2 separate regions of the Homo sapiens genome follow, and region 2 is linked to region 1. Evidence: fine-mapped expression QTL. A gene starts in region 1. The other region holds a variant in brackets. All regions are shown on one strand. Distances are from middle to middle. Region 1 holds the start of PROK2 (prokineticin 2). Region 2 has its middle 22 kb from the start of PROK2.

Region 1 (5,381 bases):
ACAATCCTGTAAGATCCATCAAATTAAGAAATGCAAGTAACAGGTGCAATTGTCAATAGTAATTACTCAAGTCACCTGCTTTCAATATAAAAGTTGTAAATACATACAATGAAACAATCAACTATGGAGGAATTTCCATACTCTAGTAAATAGAAATAAATAATAAAATCTAAATCTATTTGCATGAAAATGGATCTGAAGAACTATTATTCTTTCCTAGAACCAACAAAAAATAGAATGCTTTGTTTGAACCGTGGGCAGTAATCTGTTTTGGTAGTGATAAGATAAAAACATCCTGTACTATATATGTAAGAAACTAAAACCTCTATCATCTAGGCACAAATTTAAATGTACAATTAGTGGAAACAACTAAAACAGTCCTTCAAAATTCTTAGTTTTGAGGACAGTCATAACTTCTCAAGATATAAAAATATGGGTACATTCTTAACATTATTTCTCATTAAAAGTAACCAACTATTTTGCTTTAAAGTTCATTTACTTCCCTCATTAGAATTTATTTCTCAGTCTATTTAAACAAAGTATCTGGATAAAAGCTAAAAATTTCACCTTGAGGTGTTTGGATTTTATAGGACAATATGTAAATGTTTCAATTTTCCAATTTTTATCTGCATGCCAGAAATCATGTATATGTAGCCATTACATCCCATAAATAAGATGTCTAGTCAATGATCTTTTACAATATAGTTTTAACAAATCTATGTGGGCATATAAATCAATTTCAAAATACCTACATACACTACCCAAAAAACTGTGGATGTCAGGTGAAAGTTTTAGCCAGCATTTTATTTCAACAGATGCTCAATACCTCGAATTTTGAGGCCCCATGAGCTTTTTTTTATGAACCAATCAAAAATCCAGCCAAAATCTTTTAAAATTCAATCACCTGGATGTTTAACATGCTATACACAATGTATCTTGATAAGTTACTGAGTTTTTCATTTGAATCCAGATGGTTCCTGTCATGGAGACATAACTACATTTTATTGCCCTGTTGCTTTAGAGACATTTTTAAAATTCTCTTTTTGTAACACTGAGTTAAAATAACAACAACAAAAACAGCACACATAACTATATAATAAGCCCAGTCTAAGCCTCTCTAACAGATAGACAGCCAATGTGATAAAATTTTATTTTGTAACAAAAGCTTCAGTTCTTGGAAAATTTACAAAGAGTTGCATAGGTTTATATATTTTTAATTAGACAGCTGTTTCCTAATGCCCTTCATCCTTAACCCATTGCAAATCTATTCAGATAGTGTTGTCCTGTGAATGGAACAAAAAGATACTTATATTGCAAAGGGATCTTGGGCTCAGAGGATTAGGAGAAACTTTAAATGAGCCAGCAGGAGAAGAGGGAGAAAAAAATCCAATCATGTTTCAATTCTCATGTATTAGAAAGACCTGCAAAAAGTTTTTCTCAACCACATGGACTGGCAAAGCTATGCAAGTAATTTTTTGAAAAAATCTCTTTTCTAATAAATATCACAGAGCTTACAGTTAAATATCTGTTGGATATATACAAATGCTGTCATAGCAAAAGGACTTTCAAAATTCTATAAACCTAATAACTAATATAGAGAAAATAGAGCTTGATTTTTTCAAGACAAAGATACTTCCTTTAAAGTCAAATGATATTATCTATGTATCAACATTTCAAACATAGACGTTTTATTTAAATCCCATTATGTGCACTTAAATATTTGAAGTAATTTAATGAAGGTGTGAAATAATTCCTCACTTAAAAAACAGTAAAGAAGTTGAACAACCAGGAAATGATAGCAGTTTTGCCTTGTTAATGTAAACTAGACTATTTAGTATTGTACTGCAAACCCAATTTTTTCAGATCCACACAAAATTGTTGAGAGTGGGAGAGAACTGAACTAGTTCCTACTTACAGAAAAGATGAAAACATCGTCTCTAAGTTTAAACATCTACACAGCAACCTACTCCATCATTATGCTGGAGCACTGGAGGTGCTTTGCCAGGAATTAGAAATTTAAAACTTTTATGGGGATACCTCAAGACCCTGAGCGCGGGGGAAAGCCCCGGAACCCAGAAGGAAGCTCCCACAATTGCTTTTCAAAGCGCTCACATGGCCCTGGACCAAGCGATTTCAAAGGGTTTCTGCGGAGGACGCATCGGGGAGCAAACTCTTTGACTGTAGGATTAAGACTCTGGGCACTTGGGGAATTCGTCTTGGTCCTTTGCATTTCAGGAAGGGGCCGTCAAATTTTAAGGTTCGAGGTTGGAGAGCCTCCAAAAGTACTTGAGAAGACTCAGAGAGAAACTTCTTTCAGCCTAACAGAAGAAAAATGCGAGGAGTGAGGCCGTGGGTGATGAGGGAGAAGTAAGCGGGAGAAGGTGGTAATAAAGGTGGTGGGCGACATCCTTGTCACTGTTTCTTCCAGGACGCGCCCAGTGTCCCCAGCCGTCTGCTGCTTTTGGATCTGGGTATTTTCCCAAGTGCACCAAGGGGCGACAGGGGCAGGTGTCCCCGCCCAGGGCGACCCTCCCTTTGCCTCTAGCCTGCCCTTCAGGGTCCCCGTCCCAAGCCCCCTGGGCACATCCCAGGCGCGCATCAGGGGCAGACAGGTGCGCCCGGGCCGCTTACCCCGGTGATCACGGCGGCGTCCCCAGCGCGGGGCGTGAGCAGCAGCGGCGGCAGCAGCAAGAGGAGCAGGAGTGGGGCGCAGCACAGGCTCCTCATGGCGCCCTCGGGACTGGGCGGCCGCCGGAGGCAGTTGGGGGCGCGGGGCCCGGGTGCGCTGGGTGGAGCGCGGAGCGGCGGGCGGACGGGCGCGGCGGCTCCCGCGAGCCTCCGGGCCGTTATAAAGGCTAGCCCCGCCGTGACTCACGCCGGCGCCCGCCCGGCAGCACACGCGGGGGGCACGGCGCGGGCACACACCCCACGCCCCACGCGCACACGCGCGCCCGCCTCGGCCCGGCCGGCTCCCAGACGAGCACGTGCTATGCGCGGCCCCCCGCGCCCCCGCCTCGGGCGCCACGCAGGCAGCGCTCCCGGCGGGGCGCCCCGCTCTGCGCCGTTCCCTCCGCCGTCGCCCAGCCACCGCCTTTCGCACGCGCCGGAACCGCTTTTGTGGTCTCCGAGACACTCATTTGCTGTCCTGGTTTCCAAAGCTCCACGTGCTCAGCGCCGAAAACTTGCAAATCATTTGCTGTACAGATGTTTAGGGGTCGCCTACTACGTGCGGGGCGCTGTGGACACATAGGGGGCGGGGGGTGGGTGAGGGGGACACAGCAGCCCCTGAATCCATTCGTTTGTTCAGCAGGTCTATACTGGGCGCCCGCTGCGTGCCAGGTACTGCCACCGGCTCTCTCCTCACGGTGGAATAACTTAACAGAGAAGACAGACATCAATCAAATACCCTGGAAACGTGGAAGGCAGGGGAAAGAACAAAGGGAGAGCAAAATCGCCCCAATCCCACATCACCCGCGACGTGAAAGGATTTGTCCTTCCAGCTGCGGGACTCCTATTTGTTTATTTCAAGTCAGAGGCCTTCCCTTTATGCCCACATCTGTTCCCGACCCTCTCCTCTGATTTTCCTCACATGTATTTCCTCCCCTCTTCAGCCCCGCGCCAGCTCCAGGCACAGCCGTTCAGGGTGATGCCAAAGGGAAATGAGAACGCCTGGTTTCGAGTGCCAGCCTGAGGCCCCTTAAGCCCTAGGTACGCAGCTCTCTCTTCTTTCTTAAACTTTCCAGCCCAGGAAAATCACCCTTCGGTTTTACAGATGCGATAGGGCGTTATTGTGATTCCTTCATTCACGTAAACATGAATTGAGTGTCTAGTGGGTTCCAGGCACACCAGGAAAGAATAAGTGACAGATTTGCCCTCCATCTCTCATCCTAGCCTGGCTCCAAAAACTGCAGCCTGTTTCCCTCAACAAAAATGACGTCAAGAATACCTAGATGTGACCACACCGAACTTGCTTGCCCGTTTTGGGAAACCCAACTTTCTTCCTGAATAGTCAGAACCTCTGGCTTTCCTGGTCTCTTAAGAACCGCAAACTATTGAAAAGCAGATGCGTCTTTCAGCCTCTTTAATAAATGCAGTAAGGAGAGTTGGGACAGAGTTACTTTCAGACTGTGGGGCTCCCCCGTGCCAAAGCATTCAGACGAAATGTGGGGGATAGCGGGGGGAAGGCAGGCAATTATCTGAATGTTAAACAGCTGAATATTTGGAAACCCCAATCTTTGGCTGATTTTTAAAAACCTTTTTCACACGTGTTCTCATGTTTAAAAAACGCCTTGAACAGAAAACACAAAAGGAGTCAAACCCTTTTTTCAACTTAAAAAAATGTTAAAATTGGACTCACAGTGGAGTAAGTAGAAACAGTAGCAAGTGACAGACTTGTGGAAAGTTTCCTTTTCCAGTCTCCATGCCAACGCTAGCTCGGGAATGCTGCCGGGTAAATGTAAAAACCAGTCAACATGGATTTTAACATTCCTATGACTTTCTTTTAATGGTCTATTTCATATTCGCTACTATTGAATGCCAGCTTGGGTATTCCCTGCTTCTTCAAGCATAGAAAATATGATATGTCTACACAGGAAAAATCAGATTTCAAAAGTGGCTGGCTTCTTACACAGCTGTTTGGAAAACAGTCCTCATAAGGCTGTTTTGAAACAAGTTTAAAAAAAAGAAATAAGTTTGGAAACACTTAAAAATAGGGTTGTTTAGTTTCATGTTCTTTTGGAAATTTTAATTGCTTTAATGCTTTAGGAGAGAAATGAAGGCTCTTGATATGTCATCTTTGTATCTGAGGCCAAGTTTGAAAAATGAAGTCTGACTTCAATTGTTATAAAGGGAAAAATGAAAAAAAAAAAGAGTTTGGATTAGTCCATTAAAAAAGGTAGTTGGGACAACTTAGCAACAATGACATAGAAATGAAACAGTAGTTTATTGATTCTTTTCTATTACTGTAACCTGTTGATATTGCCACATGATCACTTCTGCCCAGGCATAACTGTATTAGGTGAAATGAGCCTTGTGTGTGTAAAGTGTAGCCTACCATATTCCAGCAGACCATCAAGGCTCAGCTTAAACGAAAATGCAATCTAGGAGCGTCTATAGAACCCAATGTTTGTGAGACAGGCTGATCAGGATTGGAATCCTGTGTGACCACTGGGCAAGTTACACAACCTTTTGAAGCCTCTGTTTCCGGTCTTGTAAAATGGTTATAAAATACCAACCTCATGGGGTACAACCCCTATGGAATTTAATAATACCTGCAAAATGCTTATCACAGTGCCTGGAACAGACTGGGAGCTCTGTTAGGGTTACCTCTTATTAAGCCTTATTATTTGGTCTCCCCTGACAATTTCAGCCAATGCTGATAT
Region 2 (5,381 bases), 22 kb after region 1:
CAGGTGTGCAGCACCACACCTGGCTGATTTTTGTATTTTTTGTAGAGATGAGGTTTTGCCATGTTGGCCAGGCTGGTCTCGAACTCCTTACCTCAGGTGATTCACCTGCCTTGGCCTCCCAAAGTGCTGGGATTATGGGTGTGAGCCACCAAGCCCAGCCAAACCCTTATTTTTTTTAAGGAGGTTGTGCACACTGGTTCCCCAGAAGCAAAGCATCAGGTAATGTTAACTTCGGTTATTGCAAATGATGGCTGGAGGTCTGGGGAGAGGGATTGATCATACTGGGCACCTGCATCTCCTGTGCAAATCTCTCCTGGGGCCTCAATGCTTACGCAGTTTGCTCCATACACCCTTGGTTTGAGTGGACCCTCCCCTGGCTCACAGGCTGCCTTTCATTGTTCTGGGTGCTCTCAAGCAGTGATGCCACTGTGGGGCATGGTGCCTGACCCCTAGAGCAATGCCTCCTCCAGGCCCCAGAGAGCTCTCCCCTGAAAAGTCAAGGCTTGAAAGAAGGAAGCCTGCCATTGGCTGAGAACTGGAATTATTACAACCCCCAATGCTGGAGGTGGGACTTGCGGGAGGTGATTGGATCATGAGGGCGGGTTTCTCATGAATGGTTTAGTACCATCCCCCCTTGGTACAGTATAGCGAGTGAGTTCTCACAAGATCTGGTTGTTTAAAGCTGTGTGGCACCTCCCCCATTTCTCTCTTCCTCCTGGGGTGGCCATGTAACATGTGCCTGCTTCCCCTTCACATTCTGCCATGATTGTACATTTCCTGAGGCCACCCCAAAAGCAGAAGCCAGTATGCTTCCTGTAAAGCCTGAGGAATCATGAACCAATTAAACCTCTTTTCTTTATAAATTACCCAGTCTCAGGTATTTCTTTATAGTAGTGCAAGAACAGACTAATACACCCATTCTTGACTTTGGAGTTAGATTAGACTTCTGAAGTTCAAATCTCGACTCTGCTACATTCAAGCTGTGTAACTTTGGGCAATTCACTCAATCCCTCTCAGCCACAGTTTCCTATTTCTCGAATGTAGTTTCCATGAGGGACTGGGTCTTGGTCTTTTCCTGCTGTTGCTATATTCCCAGTGACAAGACAGTGCCTGAAGTATGGTAGGGGCTTCATAAGTATTTTCTGAGGAAATAAATAAGGGTATTTGTGAAGGCTGATGGAAATGATGGGTAGTATCTGGCACAAAGCAATCACTTAATAGTATCTGAGTGACTATCTGGCACAAAGCCAGATCTGGCACAAAGCAATCACTCAATAAATGCTAGCTATAAATATATAAAATATACATATGAAGATGTAATTTTATTTTATTTCTTATATCTGGTAACATAGTTTCTAACCACAATGTAATGTGTTAGAATTCATCCTCTCTCATGCCTGTAATCCCAGCACTTTGTGAAGCTGAGGCGGAAGGACTGTTTGAGCCCAGAAGTCGGAGACTGCAGTAAGCTGTCATCATGCCACAGCACTCTTGCCTGGGCAACAGAGTGAGATCCTTTTTCTAAAAACTAACAAAACAAAACAATTATTTCCAAAAATTTAAAACTTAAAAAAAATTAAAAATTGAGAAGTTTTTTAAAATATGAAAAAAGAGGCATCTCCATATTTTCTGAGAGCAATAGTACATTGGTGAACACTGATTGCCCCGCATCCATTCACTTGTGTCTTTCTTCCTAACACAACTCCGATTCTGACCAAGTATAGCTTAGAAGAATGTGACCCGAGACTCTAGAAGTAAATCTTTTTTTTTTTTTTTGAGACAGAGTTTCACTCTGTCGCCAGGCTGGAGTGCAGCGGCACAATCTCGGCTCACTGCAACCTCTGCCTCCCCGGTTCAAGCAATTCTCCTGCCTCAGCCTCCCAAGTAGCTGGGACTATAGGCACCCACCACCATGCCCGGCTAATTTTTTGTATTTTTAGTGAGACGGGGTTTCACCATGTTGGCCAGGATGGTCTCGATGTCCTGACCTCGTGATCTGCCCACCTCGGCCTCCCAAAGTGCTGAGATTACAGGCGTGAGCCACCGCGCCAGGCCAGGAGTGAATCTTAAGGAGGCTATTGGCATGTGCCATTCCCCCATCACCTGCCTGCATGACTCATTGGTCCTGTGACTAGGACTGGTTCAATCAAAATGAAGGAAACATTTATATTACACACTTGGAGATGTGGTTTTTCCATTTTTGACCAGGTAGTTGAGAACAAAGAAGTATGTAGCTCCAGTTGCCACTGACAACTGTCTTGTTATTATGAGGCACTTGGAAATGAGGCTTACAACATCATGAGAAAGA[C/T]GGAGAGAGTCAGTTATCTGACGACATCTTTCAGCTACTGATGGTGCCACTCCTTCCAGTTAGGTAAGATAATACATTTCCTTACTGTCTTATTTTTTATTTATTTATTTTTGAGACAAGGTCTTGCTCTGTTGCCCAGGCTGGAGTGCAGTCGTGTGATCTGGGCTCACTGCAGCCTTGACCTCCCAGGATCAAGTGATCCTCCCACCTTAGCCTCCTGAGTAGCTGGGACTACAGACGTGTGCCACCACGTCTGGCTAATTTTTGAAGTGTTTTATAGAGATGGGGTTTCACCATGTTGCCCATGCTGGTCTCAAACTCCTGGCCTCAAGCAACCCTCCCTCCTCGGCCTCCAAAAGTGCTGGGATTATAGGCATGAGCCACTGAGCCCAGCCATTTCATTATTATTATTATTATTATTATTATTATTATTATTATTATTATTATTAAGACAGGGTCTCATTTTGTTGCCTAGGCTAGAGTGTAGTGGCAGCAAGAGGGCTCACTGAAGCCTCAACCTCCCAGGCTGAAATAAGCCTCCTGTCTCAGCCCCTCATGTAGCTGGGACTACAGGCATGCGCCACTACACCTGGCTAATTTTTGTACTTTTTTAACAGATAGGATTTCACTATGTTGCCTAGGCTGGTCTCCAACTCCTGAATTGAAGCCACCCACCTGCCTCGGTCTCCCAAAGTACTGTGATTATAGGCTTGAGCCACCATGCCCAGCCACCTTATTTTTTATGTCATTTAGGATGGGTTTTTCCAAGCCTTACAGCCAGAAATATACTACCTAGTGGGCTGCAAAATTATGTAGGAGATGAAACTAAAAATGTCTTCTTCGAATAATAATAGTAATGGTAGCCAATGCCTTCTTCAGCACAGTGTCAAAACATATGCCAAGCCCTTCAGCTATATTAGCTATTTACTCTCTCAACAATCCTATGAGGTGGAGACTATTATTTACTTCATGTTTCACATGAGGAAACCAGGTATATGTCAAGTTACATACATACACACACACTAAACCCAAAACAGGTCAGTGGAAGAGCTGGGATTTGAACATAAAGGTCTAGTTTTGGAACCAGACTTATACCTACCCATGAAACCTAACCATTTCCATCAATAGATGAATGGATAAAGAAACTGTGGTATGTATACACAATGGAATACTAAGCAGACACAAAAAAGAATGAAGTCATGTCTTCCATAGCAACATGGATGGAACTGGAGACCATCAGCTTAAGTGAAACCACTCAGAAATAGAGAGATAAATACCACATGTTTTCGCTTATAAGTGGGAACTAAATAATGTGTACACATGGGCACAGAGTACGCAAAGACAGACATGGAAGACTTGGAAGGATGGGGTATGGAAAGAAGTGTATGATGAGAAATTTCTTAACGGGCGTAATGTACATAATTTGGGTTGATGGATACCCTAGAAGCCCTGACTTCACCACTACAAAATCTATACAAGTAACAAAATTATACTTGTACTCCATAAATTTTTACAAACAAACAACAAACCCCTACCCATTAAACTATACTTTAAAGTATTTACTTCTATGAAGATTCATAGTGAGAAAGAAAAAAATGGAATGTAATATGCTTCAGTTTTTTAAAAAGTATACTAAAGCTTTCATAGACAAAAATTGAACACTTGCAAAATTTTCTTGCTTGTGTACCTTTTCCAGGGAATTTGTCTCCTTTTGAAAACATGTATTCGTTTATCCAATCAAATATTTATTGGACACTACGTGTCAGGCATTGAAGCAGGTGCTAGAGTACATAGTGAATAACTTCCTGCCAGGTGGAGAAGACAAACAAGTAAACAAGAGGGATAAGCCCTTTCCCAGGAAGGCACAGTGTGCCATGGGCATCTAAACATGGTACCTGAACCAGTCTGATGCAACAGTCGTCTAAAAAAATGCTTCCCAGGTGAGACCTAAGATTTCCCCAGGAAAGCGGTGAGAGGTCATGTCCAAAGGCCTGGAAGAGGAAAGAAAGAATGTGTCACATCTGTGACACTGCAGGCGGTGGTAGCTAGGAAAGGGTTCAGTACATAGAAAGAGAGATGAAGTCAGTGATGCAGGCAGTGGCCAAGAAGTTCAGCTCTTGTCTAAGGCCAGGTCCTCCAGAAAGTAGAGCCTGAGTCAAAAACTAAAGTGCTAACAATTCCGGAGGTGCAAGTCCAAGGTTTAAAAGGTAAGTTAAAAAGGGAAGTATCGCAAATAAAGAAGCCAAGCATGGTGAGGAGACTGTCACACACTGCTGTGGGGCCACCATGTTACAAGGAGCTGAAAAGAGGCATAGCAGGTGGCTTAGCAGGTGAGTCTGCCTGGGACATGGGACTGCTCTGGAAAGGCTGTGGGAAGAAACCCTGTCTTTTAGTAGGCCATGAAAATAGAAAGAAGGAGGAATTAATCTGCCCAGCTCATTCTACCTCTTGTTTTCCCTTATTTAGGGAGCATCCATGGGGAGTTAATTTCCCCACACTTCTGGGTTGCAGCATCTGGTGCTTGGAGGCTGCCCAGGAAGCCAGATGTCATGCTCCATCATGCGACATTTCATCCCATTCTGGAAGTGGAGGGATGACTCAAAGCAGAGGTTGGTGTGTAGACTCAACCGGCCCACGGCTTCAACTTGGGCCCCAGGCAGCTTGGGATGTTCATCCATGGCCAAGCTGAGCTTCTTCAGAAATGAAGAAATTGAAAGAATCTGCAATGGTACATAGGTTAATGTCCGATAGTCTTTTTCCCTGAGAGAAGCTATAAAGAACATCAAGCCTAGGACAGCCCCAATCAGATGAAGAGCTCAGACGGTTCATCCTGGCTGCAGGGTGGAGATGGATTGAAATTAGCAAATCTGAAAGTGTGTCTGTCACCCTGTGGCCTGGTCTAAGGGAGTAAGAATGAGGATGAAGCCAGGTGGATAGATCTAAGCAATATTAAGGAAGTCAGTTTCACTGTATTTTGTAATTAAGAAGATGAGAAGCGTGAGGGAGAGGATGGCACCTGCTTTCTGGCTTAGGCAGCTGAGGAGTAGATGGTGGTGCCACTTTCTGTGATGGG

What was found. PIP is the estimated chance that this variant, and not a neighbour inherited with it, causes the effect.
Region 2: its variant is fine-mapped to the expression of PROK2 in whole blood (INTERVAL, PIP above 0.99).

What each region holds. Positions count from the first base shown.
Region 1 is chr3:71,782,326-71,787,706 of GRCh38, forward strand. It overlaps PROK2 (prokineticin 2), which reads right to left and starts at 2,823. Exons shown (of 4, transcript NM_001126128.2): 1 at 2,632-2,823. The coding sequence starts at 2,727. It overlaps LOC105377156 (a long non-coding RNA gene), which reads left to right and starts at 3,065. Exons shown (of 4, transcript NR_199161.1): 1 at 3,065-3,198; 2 at 3,311-3,422; 3 at 3,612-3,708; 4 at 3,892-4,102.
Region 2 is chr3:71,804,660-71,810,040 of GRCh38, forward strand. No RefSeq gene overlaps it. Among named protein-coding and RNA genes, the nearest start is that of PROK2, 22 kb to the left of the region's middle. The variant C/T (reference allele first, on the strand shown) is at 2,309.